Linked DNA regions of Homo sapiens. The protein of the gene in region 1 purifies or fractionates together with the protein of each later gene. This does not show direct contact. Each region holds a gene or a part of one and is shown on either strand. Other genes may lie near its edges.

Region 1 (7,674 bases):
TTCCACAGCCGCTCATCATGATGGTGCCTGGGTGATAGTGGACACTTGGGTTCGGGTACGGGGCTTCCTTCCCCTCAGCAACACCAGGCCTGCACCCCCGCCCCTGCCCGGGGCTGGTACCTGACTGGAGGTTGGTCATGGTGGCTGGGTACTCCAAACTGTTGGGGTTGTGGGTGGTGACCCCAATCTCAATGGAGCCTGACCACTTATCAACAAGCTTGTCGATACGGATCTGGCATTGAGGGACAGAAGGGAGAAGCAGGGAATGTAAATGCAGAAAGGGACCTTCAGCCCTTGGTTCTTCCCCAGGGCCCACCCTCCTAGCACCAAGGGTCAATCCCCATCTTTAGCTCCCAGGGATAAGGCGCCAACCAGACCACAGGACTTTGCACACCTCAAACATCTCATTGTCCCGAAGGGGGCGATTGGTCATGACAACCCCATTGTTGAATTCATCCAGGGGCCGCCGGCGCTCAGCCGTCTTATTATTGTTGCTGAGTTTGATGAGGGTCCCGCACTTTTCATGAAAGAGCAGGGCATCGTTGGAAGTGAGAATGGGCGAGGTGGCAGCACCGCTAGATCCCAGGCCTTCCCCTGCCGGTGGGGAGCTCAGGTTCACATTCAGGAGCCCTCCATTGTAGGCAGACAGGATGGTGTTGCTCACCACCTCAGACAGCTCCATGTTGGCAAAGTCTATAGCAGCAGGATGGAAGAAGGAAGCTCGGAAGTTGGGATGAGGCTCTACACCCCCAGACCTGGTGCCTCTCTCCCTACCCCTTCTCCTGAGGGCCCTCCCTTGTCCACCTCACTTCCCACTCCCCTTCCCAGGGCCTCCCCAAAGCCCTCACCATTATGCGACTCAAGGCTGTTAGGAAACGTCTCCGGCCGGGCCTGCGCTGGGGACACCATGAAGGCTGGGGACCAGGTGGGATGGGAGGGGAATAAGGGTTCAGTCCCTGCTTCACGGCCCATAGCCAGGAGAACCCCCCATCCTCTAGCTCCTGCTCTCCCATTCAACAGACTTGGGGATCAGGGTGGCCCTGCCCACACCCAGCCTGTCTTGTCACTCTATTTCCCCCATTCCGTCCCCACCCCACCACCACTGCCCTAGCTGTGTTCTCACCTTCATCTGCAGAGGTCCCCTGTTCAGCCAAGGCAGAGTCTTCAGTGGGGGCCAAGGGCTCGAGGGGAGGTGTGGGGATGGGAGTAGGGGGGCTGAAGCCTGGCTCAGGGGGTAGCACGGTGATCTGGGTGCACTTGCCATAAAGGTCCACGACGGCCCAGACACGAGGGGGCAGGCCTGTGGCAGCCACACCGCAATCCCGCCCATTCACCCAGAGCCGAAGCTCCCCAGCAACTGTGCGCTCCACGCCCACGCGGTCCCCTTCACCAAGCTGGTCCAGGTCCTGACCATACTCCTCCAACACAGAGCGTCCATCTCTCAGCACAGAGCAGCCCGACACTACCCACGAGCCCCCCTTCAGGCCCGTGGCACTGCTTGGAAAGTCCAGCACACTGGGGTCCAGCGCTGTCACCCCAATCTCAATGGAGCCGCTCCAGGAGTTGACCTGGGATAGGGGTATTGGACAGAGGCTTAGAATGGGCCACCCCCCATTCCACAGGCCACCATATCTTCCCACCTCTCAGACAGCTAGCTGGCTTTCTGTCTCTTGGAACACTAATCCAGAGATGCAGACAGTGATTTTCTGGACTCCGTCTTGGTAATTATTTGGGCTTTCCTTTAGCAACTCTGCTCTCTACTCAGTGTTTACTAAACCACTCCTTTCCAAGCCAAGCACAAATTCCTTGGTTCCAACCTCCTGCCTCCTCTAACTTTCCTTGTCTCTATGGCTCTCCAACCATCCAAATTCTCCTACTTCCTATACCCACACCTCTTGCTCTTGTGTATCATTCATTCCTTTCCCCTGGCCTAATTCTCTCCAAAGATCAGGCTCTACCCAGATTCAATCTCCTTCCAAGTTCTTTTTCTGTGAGCCTGGCCTCTTCACTGAATCACACACACCTCCCTCACCCTGGATCTTTCTCCTCACCTATCTTTCTGGCACAGCCTCTGTCCTTCAATGGTTTGTTCTGTTTTTTTGAGACGGAGTCTCACTCACTCTATTGCCCAGGCTGGAGTGCAATGGCATGATCTCAGCTCACTGCAACCTCTGCCTCCCGGGTTCAAGCCATTCTCCTGCCTCAGCCTCCAGAGTAGCTGGGATTACAGGCGCACGCCACCATGCCTGGCCAATTTTTGTATTTTTAGTAAAGACGGGGTTTCACCACGTTCACCAGGCTGGTCTCAAACCCCTGACTCTAGTGATCCGCCCGCCTCGGACTCCCAAAGTGCTGGGATTACGTTTGTTCGTTCCTTGGCATCTTTCTTCACTTGCCATCACATCTCTGACATCTCTCCATCCTCCATGCCCAAGAAATTGTACCAGGAGGTCTGTTCCCAGCCATTCTAGTGGGTTAGCCCTCGTGTCCCTTCCCTGGTTCTGGATCTTGAGAAAACTCAAGCTCTTAATGTCATCTTCAAACTCAATGTTTCTGCTTCATGCTGTCTTCCTGACCGCCCCCTGGTGCTCTATGGTCTTTCTGTTCCCTCTCGGTGCCCGGCAATGTGGGCTACCCTGGCTGTCCTACCCCGTCTCCCTCTAGACGCCTCCCACCACCCTCCACATCTCTGTTCCGCGGTACCAGCGCTGCACCTTGCGGTCGATGCGGACGGTGAAGACGCGTCCATCGCGCAAGGGTTCTCGGCTCAACACCAGCCCGTGGTTAAACTCCTGGCCCGGCTGCTGCCGCCGCGCCGTACGCCCACAGGCCGACAGGCTCACCAAGCGCCCAGTGCGCGGGTGCAGTTCCCCGCCGCTGCCCAGACCCCCGTTGGACCCCGGTCCTGAGCCGCTCCCGCTGGGGCCCCCACCCCCGCCCGGCCCCGGTCCAGGGCCTCCCCCAGAGCCCCCACTCCCACCCGACCCTGCCGCCATCTCCGCTGACACCGGGGCAGCGCGACAGCCGCGCTTGGCGGCACCGTGGCAACCGCGTCGGGCAGACAGTCCGAGGGATACGACCGGGGGGCTGAGGCCAGGTATGCTTTACGGCACTGCCGGGCAATGAAGCAGCCCGCGCTAGGAGCTGGGGACGACCACGATGAGAACAGAAGGACACGGGGTCGGGAGCCTCGCTTTACGGCATAGCGAGGTGACGGAGCGGCTCCGAGGGGGACGAAGACCTGGGCAGGGAGCTTTTGCGACAGTGGGAGAAAGACACGCCCACCGCAGGCATCTTTACGACGGTGGGGTGCTGGAGCCCAAACACTTTCTGCTTTGCGACAGCGGCACCGACGACCCCGCCCTCGCTAGGGGGCGGTGACACCTTGAAGCACTCGCTTTACGGCAAGAGGGGGTGTCTCCCCTCGGGATGCAGGCTCCAAAGCAGCGTGAGCCGAGTCTGGAGGACCCAGAGAAGCGGTAGTGAAAGTCTCTTCCCGCCACCCGACTGAGGACGAAGTGTCTTGCAACAGTGCGGCAGTCCTTCCACTTTGCCTCACACCTCTTCTGATTGGCTGAGCTAGCCGACTGGCGGGGGTGGGGGAAGCTCGCTGATAGTTCAAGTCAAGCCCAGCTTCAACTCCAACTCAACCAAACTATTCCATGTTAAGACCACAAAGAGTCTAAAGAAGTCCCGACAGGCCGTTTCAAGCGACAGCGTTGATGACCCCAAAAGATCTCCCTTAGAGCTATTAACAAGCCCCCTGCCCAACTCCCCGAAGCTCAAGCTCAGGCTGGAGGACCGTGAGGTCACAGTCGAAGCTCCTGGCCTGGCCCCCTGACTGGGATTGGCTGGTTTGGATGAGGGTGGTGATGGAGAAGGGCGGGAACAAATTGCCCAGACAAAGAAAATCTTTGGGTGGGACACAAAGGAAAGGGGCGAGCGGAGGGACCCCCAGCCCGAGTCTCTATATAGTCTTGATTCCGCCCGCCGCAGCTCTGGAGCAGGGGAGAAGTGGACCCGGGACTGAGCCCGAGCATCCCCGGCCGGCAGCGGTGGGGGCGGGGCCAGGGGCGGGGCTACGTGGAGCCGGGAGGCGGGTCAGGATCGCTGAGAGCAGCCCCCCAGTGGGGCCATGGAGAAGGTGGAGTCCCTAGGGGCTGCTGGCGGCCTCAACCGGGATTCCCCTGGAGGGGCAGCCAGAGGAGTGCCCGCAGCGGTCACAGGAGTCGAGGCAGGCGCTGGGCAGCCCTCCAGAGTAGTCTTGTTTCACGGTTCTGGGCCCCACGTGCACTCAGGGGGCTCCGTAACTCATAGTACTGGTTCAAGCTGTCCCTCCGGGGGGATAGTGGTCCTTGGTTCCGGGCCCAGTCAGCACCCAAGGGAGGCTGCGAACCACAGCCTTGGGTCTGGCAGGAACCCTGGTGGATTCAACATCCCCGGGCCTCGAACCAGTGTATCCAGGGCTTCCAGCCCCGGGCCTGGGGGACCTGCAGGGCAAGAGGTAAACAGCCCCGGGTGCAGTCCGCACTCTGGGCCAACTTGCTTGAACCCCCAAAACTCCCAACAGGACCGGCCCCGGAGCATCCTACGAAAGAACAGCTCCAACTTGATGCAGAAATCCCCCAATGTGGAGAAGTAAGGAGCCCAGCTCTGCGGGCAGCCAGCCCAGAGTCGGGAGGGTTCAGGACACCTGAGGGTGGGAGCCAGAAGGAAAGGGGCAGAGCCTTAAGAATGAAGAGTTAGAGTAGGTGAGGGCAATTGAGTGGGAAGTCCGAGGTTCCAGGCTTTCGGGAGAAGAGCAGGTGCCCCATAAACCGTGGCTGCACAGGACTGTGATTATCATTAAGTCTGACCCCATCCCCAGCCTCAACAAGGTATAAGAAACCTGTTTTGAGTCGGAGTGGTGACTCATGCCTGTAATCCTAGCACTTTGGGAGGCCGAGGTGGGCAGATCACCTGAGGTCAGGAGTTCGAGACCAGCCCGGCCAACATGGTGAAACCCTGTCCCTACTAAAAATACAAAAATAAGCCGGGTGTGGTGGCAGGCACCTGTAATCCCAGCTACTTGGGAGGCTAAGGCAGGAGAATGGCTTGAACCGGGGAGGCAGAGGTTGCAATGAGCTGAGATCACACCATTGCACTCCAGTCTGGAAAACAGAGCAAGACTCCATCTCAAAAAACAAACAAACAACAACAAAAACTGTTTTGAATGCCACGCAGGGTAGCTCATGCCTGTAATCCCAGCACTTTGGGAGTGCGAGGCAGGCAGATCACGAGGTCAGGAGTTCAAGACCAGCCTGACCAACATGGTGAAACCCCATCTCTACTAAAAATACAAAAATTAGCCAGGTGTGGTGGCGCACGCCTGTAATCCCAGCTACTCAGGAGGCTGAGGCAGGAGAATCACTTGAACCCGGGAGGCAGAGGTTGCCGTGAGCTGTGATCGTGCCACTGCACTCCAGCTTGGTCAACAGAGCCAAGATTCCATCTCAAAACAAAAACAAAAGCAAAAAACAAAAACAAAAACAAAAAAAACCTGTTTTGAATGACTGGGAAAATGAGGGAGGCCTATGGGGGGGTCATTAGAAGGTCTCCTCCCCCAGCCCCAGAAGGAAGTCTCAGCACTGGGACGAGATGAATATCCTGGCCACCTACCGCCCTGCTGACAAGGACTATGGATTTATGATGGTGGATGAGCCCAACACTCCCTACCACAGGTGCTGAGCCCTCAGCCCCAACCCTTCAGTCCAGAGATTCTTCTCTATTTAAAGGAGGGGACAGGTGGAGGAGGCAGAGCGCCTCAGGGACTGGATACTGCCTGACACCCACCTCCCGGCACTGCTTCCCCCTCCTCTGCAGGCTGCAGGACAGTTTTGAGGACCTCTCTGCCGGCTCCTCCTGCTCAGTGAATCCTGGAGTGCTGGCAGAGAGGTAAGAGTCCTGCCAGAGATCAGCCGGGTTATGGGGCCTCTTCCTTCCCTCAGCCCTGAATTCAGGTCTGCAGCGGGTCTGCTTTCTGACACCTGCAGTGGGAGGTGCTACAATTTCCATCAGGCCTGGATGGGGGCAGGGGTCCGCCAATTTGGCCTCGTTTACCACCTGTCCCCATTGCTATTTTCTTCTCTTGATGCCCCCAACTAGTCTCCTGCCCCTTCAGGATTGCCATGATGGACAGTATCTGCCCCAGGTTCCGCCAGGACTGTGCTGACAGGAGCTCAGGGCCTGCAGACAACTTTTCCAAGATACATGATGTAGGGTCCAGCCCTATGGGGCTTAGCGGGTGTTCCCCACCGTGTGCAGAGACGAGAGATTGTAATAAATTAAGACACAAGACAAAGAGATAAAGAGAAAGCAGCTGGGCCTGGGGGATGACTACCAAGACGCGGAGACCGGTAGTGGCCCTGAACCACTGGTTGCGCTGATATTTATTGCATACAAGACAAGGGGGCAGGGTAAGGAGGGTGAATCTTCTAAGTGATTGACAAGGTGCAGCAAGTCACGTGATCACAGGACAGGGGGCCCTTCCCTTTTAGGTAGCCGAAGTAGAGAGAGAAGGCAGCATACGTCAGCGTTTTCTTCTATGCACTGATAAGAAAGATCAAAGACATTAAGACTTTCACTATTTCTTCTACTGCTCTCTACTACGAATTTCAAAGAGGAACCAGGAGTACGGGAGGAACATGAAAGTGGACAAGGAGCGTGAGCATTGAAGCACAGCACCACAGGGAGGGGTTTAGGCCTCCGGATGACTGCGGGGAGGCCTGGATAATATCCAGCCTTCCACAAGAAGCTGGTGGAGCAGAGTGTTCCCTGACTCCTCCAAGGAAAGGAGACTCCCTTTCGCGATCTGCTAAGTAACGGGTGTCTTCCCAGGCACTAGCGTTACCGCTTGACCAAGGAGCCCTCAAGCGGCCCTTATGCGAGCGTGACAGAAGGTTCACCTCTTGCCTTCTAGGTCACTTCTCACAATGTCCCTTCAGCACCTGACCCTATACCCGCCGGTTATTCCTAGGTTATATTAGTAATGCAACAAACAGTAATATTAAAAGCTAATGATTAATAATGTCTATAATAATGATTGATAATTGTCCATGATCATCTCTATATCTAATTTGTATTATGACTATTCTTATTCTAACTATTTCTTTATTATACTGAAACAGTTTGTGCCTTCAGTCTCTTACCTTGGCACCTAGGTAATCTTTCGCCCACAACATGAGATGAGGGTTGTGGATTGAATGGAAAGGGGGAGGTGGAGCGAGCCTTTGGCAAGAGTGCGGTGGGAAAGCCAAGCTCTCACCATGGTCACAGACTCCACCGACTTTGACAAGCGCCGCAAGGCACACTATGACAAAGGGAAGTTTCTCAAGGCTCAGAAAAACCAGCCCTTGGAGAATGAAGAGGATGAGGATGACAATGGTGGTATTATCAGTATCAGCGGTGGCAGTCAAGGCGTGATGCTGGACCCAGAGCCCAGGCCTGTGCAGAGAGGCTTGGCAGGAGAACTAGCCAGAGGAGCCAAAGATGAGCCAGGCCTGGTCACCTGGAGGCACATCCTTGAAGCCGAGGGTTAGCGATGGCGGGGCTCCAGGGACTAGAGGGGGTTGTATTCCAGAGCCCGTTCCTCACTTCTCTACCACAGTCTGTCTTCCTCAGTGGCTATCAGCCCAA
Region 2 (6,211 bases), on another chromosome or scaffold:
CGGAGGGGGGAAAAGGCTGAAGGGGGCAGGCGTGGTTTCTTCACGGTTCTTTTTGCTACCCCGTCTCCCCGCCGCGCCCCGCCCCGCCCCCACACCCAAGGAAAATGATCTAACAGTGGAGTCAGGAGACTGGCAAGTCCACACTTGGTGCCTAACGTGCCACCTGACGCTGGGGTCACCACAAACTCCTGTCGGTGTCTGAGTACCTGGGGTGGGCATGAGATGGGATAGGCTGATAGGGTCAGGATGCTCAGGGGAAGGAGGGGAATCTATCAAGGGGATCGGAACACAAAACCTCACTTCCAGGTGGGGAATGGACACCAGATGGCGGAAGAGGCTGCAGAGGTGCTGCCAGAGACAAGGCTAGGGTCCACCCCTCTGGCTGCTACCTTTGAAAAGGCTATGGCTTCTTCCTTAGAAAAGGGGCATCACATAGTCCTCTACCTACTCCCTCATCCTGACTGGGGAAACTGAGAAGAAACAAGCTCAACTCATCTCAGGGCGTCAAGGAGAGCAGAGTGGAGAGGTGAAGAGGCCAAAAGCTGGAAAAAGGTGAGTGGAGCTGGGGCTGGCATGCACACTTGGAACCAGGAAAAAAACAAACCACACAGAGGAACAGCTGTTTTTCTAGAGGGTTTTTCTCAGGGGCTTCTCTTAGTGCTGTAGCTGCTGCAGGCTGCGCAGGGCCTCCGCACATGCGCGGATAAGGCCACACAGCTGGATGCTAGTCTCCAGGGAGGTGCTAGAGCCCAGTTCAGCAGAGGCCCAGGTCAGCTTCTGCAAGAGGGCTGTCTGTGTGCAGGCCATGACATCTGTATTTGGAGGCACAGCAGGAGCAGGTGGCCCCTGGGCTGCCTTGAGTCCTGCTGCAGCTCCCTCACAGTGCTCCGGACGAGGTACTGGGGGCTGGGGCGCAGGTCGAGAGCCCAGGGGGAGCTCTGAGGCTGAGGCCAGCTGGTGCTCCCGAGCTTGGGAGAGGGCAGCCTGGGCATTCAGAGCTAAAAAGAGGAGAAAGTGGGTGGAATGGTCAGGATGCCTGGCCCACCTCAGCCCTGAGCCATCTCCTTTTCTGCTCTGCTCTTTCTGTGCTTGAGGTGTTTTCCCTGTCCCTCTATAAGGCAACTCATCCACTTTCTACTTTGTATCACATTTATGCCCTAGCTTCAATTCTCCATCAGTACTGGGCCTGGTTGAGCTCAGACTCTCGCGCAGTGGCTGGCACACAGGAGGTGCTTGGTGCTCTTATTGAGTTAAGGGTCCTCTTTAGAGCCTAAAGGAGAAATAATTTTACTTCTACCCCACCCAGAGACTCCACTGTCACCTCTCAGCCCTACTGTTCTCGGGCCTCTATCACCACTTAACCACGCTTCCCCCCTAAGCATATCCGGCCCCTCTCCCGGATTATTTTTTACTCTTACCGGGATTATCTTTATCCACGTCTGAGTCGAGTTCCTGACAAGCCACGCAGTAGATTTTCCGCTGTTTGTCTTGGAGGAGGATCGTCTACGGACCAAAAAGCACACGGGGCCGGAATGAGACGCCGGCAATGGGGTCCAGAGGGGAGGGCCGGGGAAGGGCTGAGTGGCCTGGCCCGCGGACCCATCCCCGGTCACTCGCCCGAGTCTCGCCTCACCCCGCAGTCCGCACACGTCTCGCCCAGCATGCGGTAACCGCGCAGCAGATAGTCGCCCATGAGCCGGGAGATGCGATCTTGCCGCTCCCGTCGCGCCTGCAGCACCTTCGTCTCCGCCTCAGTCGGGGGCTCCCAGGAGAAGTCGTCGACTTCTGGGGAAGAGAGGCATAGGGACTGGGGGTCTTGCCGGAGTGGGCTGCCTCCCGTACCTCACAGCCACAAACCCCTGCCGCCCAGGTCCTCACCAGCTCCGTTCAGGGCCATGTTGCCGTTGTCACCGCCGGGCTCACAGGAAGTGACGTCAAAGCGGAGCGCCCTCCGCTGCGGCTCCGCCCGTTCCATAGCTGCCGCGGATCAGGGCGGACGTGACGCCTTAGCGTGGTCCTCAGACCTCGCTGTGCCCGGGGTGGGGCGTGTCGGCTGCTACCGAGAACCTGCTCGGGGGACGCGTCCGTCAACCGGAATCCAGGGGACAGAAGCTTCCGACGCGCGAGGCCTCGGGAGGAGCGTCTCCTTGGTAACTCTCCTCCGGTCGCAAGACCTGGAAGTGGCCTCAGGGGGTCGCCCTTCCTGTCCGTCGTGGATGAAGGGGACCACTTGGCTTCAGAAATCCCCGCTGGCCTCCGCCTCCCCTGGGGTTTCCCTTTCGGCGCAGGCGGGGCAGCGGCGTCATCACAACCATCGCCACCCCAGTAATCACAGCGAGCGGCCCTTTGCGCACGCGTGGAGCCTTCTCAGGCCTCAGTACTTCTCACTTCGCCCGGCAAGGCTGGCCAGGAGGGGTGCATTCTCCCTTTCCGCGTATTTCAAGACCACTCCCCTTCTGCATGCTCGGTGTCCCAGTCTGTCTCCTCGCTGCCTCCCGAGGCCTGGAACTGAAGCAAAGTTCGCCCCGAAGCCGACCGTTCTTTGAAGTTGAAATCCTCAAAAAGCCTGCAGACTGAATAGCGCTGTACTGGGCACGCGCATTGCGCTTCCAGCCGCCCTTGGGTGCTGCGTGCTGGGCCGGGTCGGGTTGGGGCCTTCCTACATACTCTTGCGACCATTAGGCTCTTCTTGGGTGAGTTGCAAGTTAAAATTACCAGGGCTCTCTGAACATGGACCTTGGTGCTTTTTTTCTCTCTCCCTCTTCCGTGTTCTTTTTCAAACGCATCTTCTCCCTTATTAGATTCAGAGAAGCCAGACAGGGCAGGCAGGGGTCCTCAGATGTGCAGTCTGCAGGGCCTGAGGTTGTACACCAGGGCAGTGGAAAAGCAGCTAGGACTTGGACTTTCACAGTTACATCGACATTCTCCTCTTCCGGATGGCACATGCCCCCTCAATCTGACCTGAAGTCCCTTCCTCCTGGCCCCCTCTTCCTTCCACGTAGAACCCCTGGAACTGTCATTCTTGCTGCCTCCTGCTTACGTGGAGAGCCCTGTGTCCCTTTCACATCTCCATCTACCAGTCAGGCTCTTGGGCAGCAGCGTACCTGACTTAGGGCCTGTACCACAAGTCGTTTCTATCAGGCTGAATAGAGCCACCGTTTTTTGTGTGTTTGTTTGGTTTGGTTTGTATTTTTTGTAGAGATGGGGTTTCGTCATGTTGCCCAGGCTGGTCTCCAACTCCTGGACTCAAGTGATCCTCACACCTCAGCCTCCCAAAGTGCTGGGATTACAGCGAAGAGCCACAGCACCTAGCCTGAGGCTGACTAGAGGAACTGTCTCTGAACCATCTCTTGGACTCCAGCCTGTATGCACAGACCCCCAGGTTATTACCGTCTCCAGCTCCCAGCCCTACCCTGAATTCCTCAGTGCGCCGACTATGTCACCATCATGGCCAATATCCACTCAACTGTCTATTCTGCCTCGCACCTACAAAGAGCCTTACATGAGTCCTCTCACTTAATCTCTCCAATTTACTCCTCATGACAACCTTACATATCCCCACATAAGCAGGAAACTGAATAATTATTTTAAAATACAGTGTCGTTCTTGTACTAAAAACCATCTGGCTGCCCGATACTGTGGCTCACGCCTGTAACCCCAGCACATTGGGAGGCCGAGGCGGGCAGATGTCTTGAGATCAGGAGTTCAAGACCAGCCTGGCCAACATAGTGAAACCCCTTCTCTACTAAAAATACAAAAATTAGCCAGGTGTGGTGGCGGGCGCCCGTAATCCCAGCTACTCGGGAGGCTGAACCAGGAGAATTGCTTGAACCGGGAGGCAGAAGTTGCAGTGAGCCGAGATCACACCACTGCACTCCAGCCTGGGCAACAGAGTGAGACTCTATCTAAAAAAAAAAAAAGCCATTTGGCATCTCCCATCACACTTAGACAAAAATCCAAAGTCCTTGTTATGGTCTCCAAGGTCCTATAAATCTGGTCCTTGACCCCCCAAATCCAGACAACACATAGAGAGATGCACACACATCTCCCATCCTTCCTGCATCCCTCTTCTCCCACTGCTCAAGAGGACTCTTGTCCCTTTTCTCCTCTCAGGGCCTCTCACCATCTTAAGTTCCACTGTAGGGTGGACAAGACGCAGAACTGGAATGAGGCAGGCCTGGGTTTGATCCTGGATCTATTTACTGTATCACCTGGAGTAGTTTACTTCATCGCTGTGGACTTCAATTTCTCATCTGTAAAACAGGGCCAGTAGACCAGGTGCTGTGGCTCACACCTATAATCTCAGCACTCTGGGAGGACATGCAGGAGGATTGCTTGAGACCAGCCTGGACAGCATAGTAAGAACCCATCTCTAAGAAATATATGTATTTTTTAAATTAGCTGGTGCAGTAGCATGCACTTGTAGTCCCAGCTACTCAGGAGGCTGAGTGGGAGGATTGCTCCCAGCCCAGGAGATCCAGGCTGCAGTGGGCCATGATCAGGCTTCTGCATTGCAACCTGGGTGACAGAGCGAGACCCTGACTCAAAATAAAAATGGGGCCACTTATGCCTATTTGTTGCTTGTTTGTTTTTTGAGATGGAGTCTCTGTCACCCAACCTGGAGTGAAGTGGCGCAATTCTCGGCTCACTGCCACCTCCACCTTCCAGGTTCAAGCAATTCTTGTGCCTCACCCACTGGAGTGGGATTACAGGCATGCGCCACCACAGCTGGCTAATTTTTTTTTTTTTTTTGAGACGGCATCTTGCTCTGTTGCCCAGGCTGGAGTGCAATGGTGCGATCTCGGCTCACTGCAAGCTCTGCCTCCTGGATTCACGCCATTCTCCTGCCTCAGCCTCCCAAGTAGCTGGGACTACAGGCACCTGCCACCACGCCCGATTAATTTTTTTTGCATTTTTAGTAGAGACAGGATTTCACTGTGTTAGCCACGATGGTCTCGATCTCCTGACCTCGTGATCTGCCCGTCTCGGCCTCCCAAAGTGCTGGGATTATAGGCATGAGCCACCGCGCCCAGCCAATTTTTTAAATTTTTATTTCTAGTAGAGACGGTGTTTCACCATGTTGGCCAGACTAGTCTCAAGCTCCCGACTTCAGGTGATCTGCCCACCTCAGCCTCCCAAAGTGGTAGGATTACAGGCCTGAGCCACCGCGCCAGCTTCAAAGATGTTTATCTAGGGAACAGCTATGGAAGATGGAGATAGTGTCTCCCTCCAGAGCAAAGGACAGCCATGCTTACTGGCTTTGAGTTTCCTAAGCTTAGGGTCCTCTCCCACAATGTAATTCGCTCTGTGTGCCCACACTTGCCTGAGCCCATCAGCATCACCCCCATGGGACTTAGGGTCAAAAGGAACTAACGGAAATATGCTGGTGCTCATGCTGTTTGCTGCACAGCGATCAAGTCCTTTGTCTCTGACCCAGGACTCTCCTGTATTCTGCCAGCATTCTTGAACCTGACGGGCTACCTTGGTAGCTTGCAAGTGGGTAAGATCTCAGATGCTTCACAGTCCTTGACATAGAAGGTGCTCACAGGTGTTGGTGGTAAAACCTATTCGCAGCAGTCACAGTGGACAGGCCAGTGTCTGTGGAGCAATGGGCTTGGGCTCTTTCACACCCTTCCCTTGCCGACAATATATCACACCTTCAGCCAGGCATGGTGGCTCACAACTTTAATCCCAGCACTTTGGGAGGTCAAGACTGGCAGATCACTTGAGGTCAGGAGTTCGAGACCAGCCTGGCCAACATAGTGAAACCCCATCTCTACTAAAAATACAAAAACTAGCTGGGCATGGTGGTGCGAGCCTGTAGTTCCAGCTACTCATGAGGCTGAGACGGGAATTGCTTGAACTGGGAGGCGGAGGTTGCAGTGAGTGGAGATCCTGCCACTGCACTCCAGCCTGGGCAACAGAGCATGGAGTCAGGGAAGAGAAAGGAGGGAAAGGAGGAGGGGGAGGGGGAGGGAAGGGAATCACAGTTTCATGTGAGCCAGTCCAAATTGGTCCCTCCTTGTGGCACTGATGACATGGCTGTAGTTAGGCTCTTTTCTGGGTGATAGAGCACCCCACAGCAGCTCAGTCATGCACAGCTCAATTACAGCTCCCCCTGGGCTGGCTGATTTGGTGGGGATGGTTCACATGGCAACAAGTGGCCTATGCCATGTTGCCTGGCCTCTGAAAAACGTAACTTATCATTTGT

Evidence for each region. Proteins that work in one complex are often made in the same cells at the same time.
Region 2: the proteins of NEURL4 (region 1) and ZNRD2 purify together in Homo sapiens (co-immunoprecipitation; 4 studies listed by BioGRID and IntAct, with this or other methods). This does not show direct contact.

What each region holds. Positions count from the first base shown.
Region 1 is NC_000017.11:7,326,317-7,333,990, forward strand, and holds the start of NEURL4 (neuralized-like protein 4), read right to left. Parts: upstream 3,020-7,674; 5' UTR 2,997-3,019; coding exon 2,715-2,996; intron 1,569-2,714; coding exon 1,124-1,568; intron 915-1,123; coding exon 849-914; intron 694-848; coding exon 395-693; intron 233-394; coding exon 121-232; intron 28-120; coding exon 1-27. UniProt on the Homo sapiens protein: Promotes CCP110 ubiquitination and proteasome-dependent degradation. By counteracting accumulation of CP110, maintains normal centriolar homeostasis and preventing formation of ectopic microtubular organizing centers.
Region 2 is NC_000011.10:65,566,178-65,572,388, reverse strand, and holds ZNRD2 (protein ZNRD2), read right to left. Parts: upstream 1,913-6,211; 5' UTR 1,898-1,912; coding exon 1,879-1,897; exon of another isoform or gene 1,786-1,878; coding exon 1,634-1,785; intron 1,504-1,633; coding exon 1,419-1,503; intron 999-1,418; coding exon 655-998; 3' UTR 501-654; downstream 1-500. UniProt on the Homo sapiens protein: Might play a role in mitosis. Antigenic molecule. Could be a centromere-associated protein. May induce anti-centromere antibodies.